2 separate regions of the Homo sapiens genome follow, and region 2 is linked to region 1. Evidence: fine-mapped expression QTL. A gene starts in region 1. The other region holds a variant in brackets. All regions are shown on one strand. Distances are from middle to middle. Region 1 holds the start of DEF6 (DEF6 guanine nucleotide exchange factor). Region 2 has its middle 28 kb from the start of SCUBE3.

What was found. PIP is the estimated chance that this variant, and not a neighbour inherited with it, causes the effect. A credible set is the group of variants that fine-mapping cannot tell apart.
Region 2: its variant is the best candidate, but not a certain one, in a credible set for the expression of DEF6 in lung (TOPMed, PIP 0.77).

What each region holds. Positions count from the first base shown.
Region 1 is chr6:35,295,360-35,299,359 of GRCh38, reverse strand. It overlaps DEF6 (DEF6 guanine nucleotide exchange factor), which reads right to left and starts at 1,542. Exons shown (of 11, transcript NM_022047.4): 1 at 1,408-1,542. The coding sequence starts at 1,503. It overlaps ZNF76 (zinc finger protein 76), which reads right to left. Exons shown (of 14, transcript NM_003427.5): 14 at 3,375-4,000. RefSeq lists a silencer at 3,041-3,205.
Region 2 is chr6:35,184,256-35,188,255 of GRCh38, reverse strand. No RefSeq gene overlaps it. Among named protein-coding and RNA genes, the nearest start is that of SCUBE3, 28 kb to the left of the region's middle. RefSeq lists silencers at 2,630-2,924, 3,319-3,700. The variant C/A (reference allele first, on the strand shown) is at 1,718.

The DNA.
Region 1 (4,000 bases):
AGATATTAAAGGGACAGGGTGGGAGGTAGGGGTGGGACACAGAGTTTGCAGAAATGGATTTTGGATGATCGACTTTTTTCCATTTATACTGAGGACCCAACCAAATGACATGATCTGCAATACAAGAGATTTAAATAGGATGTAAGGAAGAATCTGCCTGTTAGGAGGTTCTCCCTAGGTGACAAAAGATAGTAGTGGGCTCTCCTTCCTGGGGGAGTGAAATCATCTATTAGATGCTCACAAATCCAGGTAAGGAATTTAACATAGGACCAGTTTGGGATATTCAAGTTCCTCACATCCAAGTTCAGTAAAGTAGGGGGTTGGAACGGTGGTGGGGCACAATAACTGTTCTGTCCCATTCATCTCTCAGGTATCCAGCACCCTCTACCTCGGTCATTAAGAATGGAGGTTTCCTTGAGACCACACGTCTCCTTTGGAGGATGGGGCAGGGAGACACCAGTTTAGTGCCTAGCCACATGCCAGGCACAGAGCCTCACGAGGGGCACTCAAGTACTTGCAGAGTGAACGAAGGCACCCCTATGGCAGGTCCTAGAGAGCTGAGGCCTACCTTGCTCCTTTCCCCCAGTGTTCGCTGATTCTAGTGGCTGAGGGCCTTGCTTCCTCCCCACTAACTAGGGTAGGGAAGGCAGCACTACTGGAGGACTAGAGGAAGAGAGAGAAAAACTCCTTGGCCTCCCAGAAATTGTCTAGGCCAGATGATTGACTTCAGGACAATCATTGATTGGGATTTTCCTGGGCTTAGATTCTCCCCCTTCCCTACCTGAGGTCTCAAGGCCTAAGGTAAGTTTCCCAACCTGATATGTGTGGTGGATAGGGGGGTGAGCTGCGTAGCAGTATAATAGGGTCCTCAGTCCTCACCCACTCCGCAGCTCTGTCCCACCTGGCGGGCAGGGTTAGACAGGCCAGACAGGTTTGGGACTGGGGGCGGCCCCTTTATGCCTCTCTCAGCTCCAGAGGAAATGACTGCCAAGCACTGGCTAACTGTTTCTCTTGAAAGTCAGGAGGAAGCAGCAAGAAAGAGCACACTGCGTGCCCAAGCATGACTCTGTGGAGGTGTGTGTGCTCATCACACAGAGTCTGGGATGTGGCCTGGCTCCTGGCCCTCAGAACCCCATAATGGCCCTCAGAACCTCCTGGCCTCCAGTTGTGGGGCCCAGTTCTGCGCAAGGTTTCTGCACACACTTCACTAGGTCTCTGGAGGGTGGGCAGCGGCATCTACCAGGCTACGTTGGCCCAGTTACCCAGGACCAGCCCCCCGACCCCAGGCCCGGGACGCTGGATGGCTGGGTGCCCCTGGAGTGGCACAGTGTCCACACCTGGCTCCCAGGCGGCAGGGGCTGGTGTGGTGCATCTGCCGTCCTCCCCCGGGTCCCGGGTGCCCCTCACCTTGAGCTGGGACTTGGAGACTTTGCCACTCTTCTCCACGTCCAGCGCGGTAAAGGCGTACCAGATGGACTTGAGCAGTTCCTTGCGCAGGGCCATGGCTGAGGCGCCCGCCCGGCTGGGGGCGGCTCTGACACTAAGATCCGGTTTCAGGAAATGCAAACGGCTGCAGAGACCGCAGAGGTGCCGTGGTGGAGCGAGAGCACCACCTGCCTGCACATTGCGTGAGGCTCTGTGCTGTCGAGAACCCTGCCTGTTGTTCTGGCAGTGCTCAGAGGCTCCACTCCCTGCATGGGAACTGGGGACCAACTCTCCGAGAGCGGGAACCCTCGTTCTGTATCCACGTGGCTCCCGGGGCATGTGAGGCCCTTTTAGAAGCCTCCTCAGACCCGGAGGCTTCTGGAGCCTTCCAGGGCTCCCAGACGCAGCTTGCTGAGGGAAAAAGCAAGCTCATCCTGATATTGGGGTCAGACAGAGTAAAGGTCCAGTCCTAGTTCAACATAGGAGGCCTTGGGTAAGTTACTTAACCTCCTTGAGCAGTTTCCTCATTTGTAAAGCAGGAAAAATGCCTCCGTGTTGTAAGAATGTCTGAGAATGGACGTAAAGCACATAGTAGGCTCTGGGTAGAGCTTTTGGTGCTACTTAACATTACCATGGTGGTGGGACTCCATCCAAGTGGAAGGAAACAAAGGCAACATCACAAAGCTGGAGAAGGAAATGGGCCAGGGCACCTCTCCAGGTCAGGATGTGGCACTTGACTTGCTGGCTCCCTATCCCCTCAGCACTGGCTCTAAACGGTACTCAGAGCACTGCCCACTCTAGCCCCAGTAGCCCTGAAGACACTGGAAACTTCCTGAAACACATGGGGGTGAGCCTTGTGGTGCACCTCAACTTTAAGGGTCCCAGCAGCAGCAGGCTTGGGATTCAGGGCCCTCCATGTCAGTGCTTCCTTTCTTCAGATCCAGTGTCCAAAAGGACTGGGACACGCCCACACCAGGAATGGTGGTCACAGATGTTGAAGACATCTGCTCAGGCCAATTCTAAGACACCTCCCCCTACCCCCTAAGCCAAATAAAAATCCCTCCAAGTAAGGTGCTGGGAATACCTCCTGCCTGGAAGCACGCCCCCGCCCCTCTCTTCCCAAGGAGCTGGTGGCAAGAGTAAATGGGAGCTTTCTAGGCATCCTGGGAGAGGATGCCTGGATCAGAGGAGGGGGTTCCAATCCTAGGAGGCAGGAAGGGGTTGGGGCATATCCATCACAGCAGAGAGAGGAAAAGAGGCACCACCAATCCCTGCAATGTTCCTGTGTAGGCAGAGTCAAACCCAGAGCTTCTTCCCATCAAGTGCCTTCCCCTGTATCCCTTCTTCCCCCTGGAGCTGATCTGGTCTCACCAACTCACTTTTCAGTGGGGTCTGATTGTGGCTTTGAAATCCCACAGCACAGTCCTAGGCACCTAGGTGGGCACCCCCAGAGCTGGGTAATAGAGCCAAGACTTCAGCTCCAGAGGCATCAGACTCTGCTCCTTGAATCTCAGTAACCTTGGCAAAGGTGTCCCCCAGCCTCACTCTAACCTGGGGCTTTGCCCTCTTGGAGAAGCTGACTGTGTGATTTGGGGGTGGCTGGGTTGGAGGGGCTCTGACTACGTTTCACAAGAAAAGGCAGGAAAAGAGTTCCCCCAGCTCAATCACATGAGGCCTGAGATTCAGCCAGAGCCTGGAAGCAGCGGTCACCCTGGTCCTGTTTGGCTACCCTGGAGCCCACCTGCTCAGCTGTGGGCAAGAAGCCACCAGCAGCTCCTCAGGGCTTTATCTTATACTGGGCTTCCTTCCCACCTGTGTCCCTGGCAGGCCAGCCCCACCACTCTGGCACCAAGGCTGAGTGGGGTTTGTGCCAGGGAGACAGGGCTGATAGCCTGATTTGACCAACCCTGCCACCCGGGCCTAGAGCTGAAAGGATGGAGGGACCCAGGTGGAAATTTGGAACTTTTATTAAATACTCATTCATCCATGTGCCACCACCACCCAGAGCAGGAAAAAAATTATCAAAATGGAATTAAAAAAAACAAAACAAATCAAACCCAATCCCCAGCAGTCTATGTACAGGGCCACTCCCTGCCTCTCTGCCATAGAGAGGTTGGGGGGCAGCTGAGGAGTGGTGGGGGCTGGGCACCTTTTCTTCAGCCACAGGCCCCTGAGGAATTAATTGACTGTGGTGTCAGGAAGTCCCTGGTGCCAAGTAGCCAGGCATCTCAGCTGGCCTCCAGGGAGGTGGTTATTGCTGGGAGGGCAGGACAGGGCCTGCTCCACTGCTACTGGGCTGAAGAGCTGTCTGTGGCTCAACCCTACAGGGCCAGTCCCCATAGCAGCCCCAATCTCTACCTGAGAAGGGGAACAGACTGAGGGCCAGAAGGGTGTTCTTTAGGAGGAGAGTGGGCGCCCAGCTGATTTTGAGAGGCGGGTGCCCTGGTGTAGCCTGGCTGTTGTCAGCTCCCGAGGATGATGCACTCCCCTGATTCCAGCTGCCTGGCCCCCTTCTTGAGCAGGGCCCCCATTCCCTTCAGTTAGGCAGTTTTCTTGCTGTCTTCTCACCCCAGAG
Region 2 (4,000 bases), 110 kb after region 1:
CTCACGCCAGTAATCCTAGCACTTTGGGAGGCTGAGGTGGGAGGATCGCTTGAGACCAGGAGTTCAAGATCAGTCTGGGCAACATGATGAAACCCTGTTTCTACAAAAAATACAAAAAAAACTAGCAGAGCCTGGTAGTGCACATCTGTAGTCCTAGTTACTTGGGAGGTTGAGGTGGGAGGATCACTTGAGCCTGGGGGCAGATGTTGTAGTGAGCTGTGATTGCACCACTGCACTCCAGTCTGGGTGACAGAGTGAGACCCCGTATCAAAAGGAAAAAAGAGTTCAACTTTATTAAAACCTTCGGGGAATGTCCCACTCATCAAACATAACCAAGTGATGGTGAGGATGTGGAATGACTTGGTAAAACCATTTTAGAGAGCTATTTGGCAATATGTCATCAATAGGAAGATGCCCTCCTAAGTCTTTACTCTGAAGAAGCTCTGTTTTGTAGGTGCATAAGAATGTTCATGGCAGTGCTGTATGTAATCATGAAAAGCTGGAAGCAGCTGACATGGAGACTGGACATTACGGTAGTCACACAAGGGACTGTATACAGCACAGAACCAATCACAGCTTCACTCATCAATGTGGGTGGCTCTCAGAAACACACAGTAGATCAGAAAAGAAAGTTGCAGATGAATATATACAGTATGATACCACTTATATGGTCTTTAAATACATGCAAGACACTATTACATATCGTAAATATGGAGAAATAGATAGTAAAACAGAGAAACACAGGGAATGGCAAATATCACATTCAGGAGAATGGTCACCTCTGTGGGGAGAGCAGAGAGATGGGATTGCATCAGGTACACAGAGGGCTTCCCTGGTATTGGCAAAGTGTTATTTCCTAGGTTGGTAGGTACACGGTGTCTGTGATATAATTCTTTATTCTGCGGTCATCATTACTGTTGTCCACCAAGCATTTCTGGGTCCTTCCCCTTCCAAGCGCCTGGTAGGATAGTAATTTCAGGTTTTCTGTGGTTGGGAGAGGCCCTGTGACTAGTTCTGGTCAATGATTTGTGAGCTAGAGCATTAACTGCCTTTTTGAGACCCTCTAGATTCCTTTCTTTTTTTTTTTTGAGACAGGGTCTTACCCTGTCACCAGACTGGAGTGCAGTGGCACAATTACAGCTCACTGCAGCCTCCAAGTCCTGGGCTCAAGTGATCCTCTTGCCTCAGCCTCCTGAGTAGCCGAGACTACAGGTGCACACCACCACACCCGGCTAATTAAAAAAAATTTTTTTAGAGACAGGGTCCTGCTATGTTGCCTAAGCTGGTCTTGAACTTGGCCTCAAGTGATCCTCCTGCCTTGGCTTCCCAAAGTGCTGGGATTACAGGCATGAGCCACTGTGCCCGGCATCTCTTTTGCTTCTGACAGTGCTTCAGATGGTGGCTGTTCCACCAGCCTGGGTCCCTAAGTGATTTCAATGGTCAGAGTCCCCTGCTCATCCACAAAGGGCATGTAGCAGAAGTGAGAAGCAGTAAGTAGCAGAAGCAGAAGTGTGTGTTAAGCCACTGAGATATTGGGGTTTTTACTGCAGCATAATCTAGACTATTCTGATACATACCTTTTAGTGTGTCTAGAATAATTAAATTAAAAAATTAAATGAGGAAAATATCCATAGCTTTCACGCAAGTTCTAAGATAAGACAAGAGAAGGGGGCTTAAGAGAGTAGAAGGCTGCATTTCCATTGCTGTTTCCTAAAGA[C/A]AAAAAAAAAGACATTTCCTAGCTCCCTTTTACCCCTTGGGTGGCAGCAGCAATGAGTTCAGGAAGACTTTGGGCTGGGGTGTCCCTGGTATTTCATTACACCTCTCTTGGAAACTCATTTAGCACCACTGTGCTTTCTCCTCAGCTTCAGGAAAAAAGCCCAGCAATCCCCAGGCATTAGACACCTGCAGGGCAAAACTTGGTTTGGCACATTGTTTGGGCTTCTAAGTCCCCCACCTCCCCAAAACTGCAGCAACATCAGCCAGAACAGATATGTAAGATCAGAGCAGACAGGATGTGAGGGAGTTCTTGCCTTAGGTGCCTGGCAAGAATGTGAACCTCAGCTCCTGGGAGCATGGGGCTGGATGGCTCTGTCACACAGTCTACAGCCCACTGACACTTCAAATGCCAGCTTCCTGCCTTCTTGCCTCCGGAGGAAGCATTCCTGGATTACCTTGCCTGGAAGGGAGGGGAGGAGGAGCTGCAGGTAATACCTGGATTTCTATGGTGCTTTTCTTCCTAAAGGTTCAAAAGACATCCCTTCTCTGATCTCCTGTGGCCTTCCCCAGAAATAGGGCAAGGAGAGGAAGACTCTCATTTCCCAGTCCAGGTAAAGAAATGAGGGTCCAGAGAGGTTAAGCAAATGGCCTGAGGTCATATAGCAGGACAAGAGTATGATTCTGGTGGGCAAGGGTCTATGTCTCCACACCCCATCTCTCCCCATCCACTACCCCAGACCTACCCTGCTGGCCAGGCTGGCTGGCCCCTGTATGTGGGCAGCAACCTTAGTACTCTCAGTAGCCTTTGCAGAGGGGTGAGCTGGGCCTTGAGTGTCCACTCAGCTTGTCCTGGGCCTGAGCAGAGAAGAGGAAGAGGAGGAACTGGGAGAGGCTAAGGTCAGCCCCCCCCACCCCCCCACAATCTCCCAACAGAGCAGTGATGACAGGTTGGCCTTGAGCCCCGTGGTCCCGCCACTGGGAGGTCAGGCCAGGAGGCTGCCAGAACACCGGGGCTGAAGAGGCTCCAGATAATGCAACTGGGGCAGGCTCTGTGGGTGGAAATGACATTTCTTGACTTTAAATAGCTCCATCTCCAGAGCCCCGGAGCCTCGGCAGGGCTATTAATTCCTGGACTCCCAGGGCTGCCTAGCCCTGTCATTCTGTTTGCACAAGTTGTGTAAGATCTCAGGCATTTTTCCTGCCACCCGTCTCCCCCACCTCCCTTCAGGTTTCCTGTGCGATTTCAACAAGGGGTTAGTTTATTTCCAGTTTCAGGCCTGGGATTCGAACTGACCACATACATATTTTGTCCTTCTTACAAGTGACACGGCTCAAGTCAACAGCAAACTCTTAAGGGTTTTCTTTGTAACCTGGTGTCTCTGTAATGAAAGGTAATGTGTATGTGAATGGACGGCAAAAAGAGAGGCCATCTCTATGCATGCATGTGTGTGTGTGTATCAAGTTAATTAATCAATTGATTAATCAAACCCCCAGATTATTTTTGAGTGCTTACTATGTGTCAGGCACTGGGCTAGCGCTGGGTACAAAGGGTAAACAAGAGTCCTAACTGATTAAAAAAAAAGAAAACTGTTACCACCCCCAGGGAAGGCCCCTGGTGGTGTCTCCTGGCCCAGCTGGGCATCCCTGACAATAGTTCCCAACATCTCTGCATCGTGCCCACACTTGCCAAGCCCCCGGTTATGTGCCATGCTGAGAATGATGCAGAGAAAAAGACAGGTAGGTGCAGGAGGTTCTAAATGCAGAAAATCAACAGGTCGTGGTGGCTGACTGGCTGGAGAAATAAGAATCAACGATTAGTCAATGACAAGTCCAGGGTGTTCAGCCTGAGGACACTTAGACTGTTGGACCTTTGAGGGCAGACATGGCAGCTCCTACATATGGGGAAAGCACCTGGTGGGTTCAGCATTCCCTGGTCTTCCCTGTGTCCAGGCTGGGCATTTCAAGGACAGCCTCAGGGAAGACACATTTTTAATCATTTTGACTGGTGTGTGTGTGTGTGTGTGTGTGTGTGTGTGTGTGTGTGTCTGTCTGTCTGTCTGTCTGCTATTGACATCTAGTGGGTGGAGAATAGGGGTACCACGAAACATCCTCTGAAGCACAGGACAGCCCCACCCACAACAAAAAATTATCCAGCCCAAAATATGAGTAGTGCCAAAGTTGTGAAGCCTGAGTTTCTGTGAATCTGATCACTAGGTCCACAGGAAACTTAAATCATCCCAGTTTCACCCAGACCCATGCAATGTGGACTGACATTCAAGCTAAC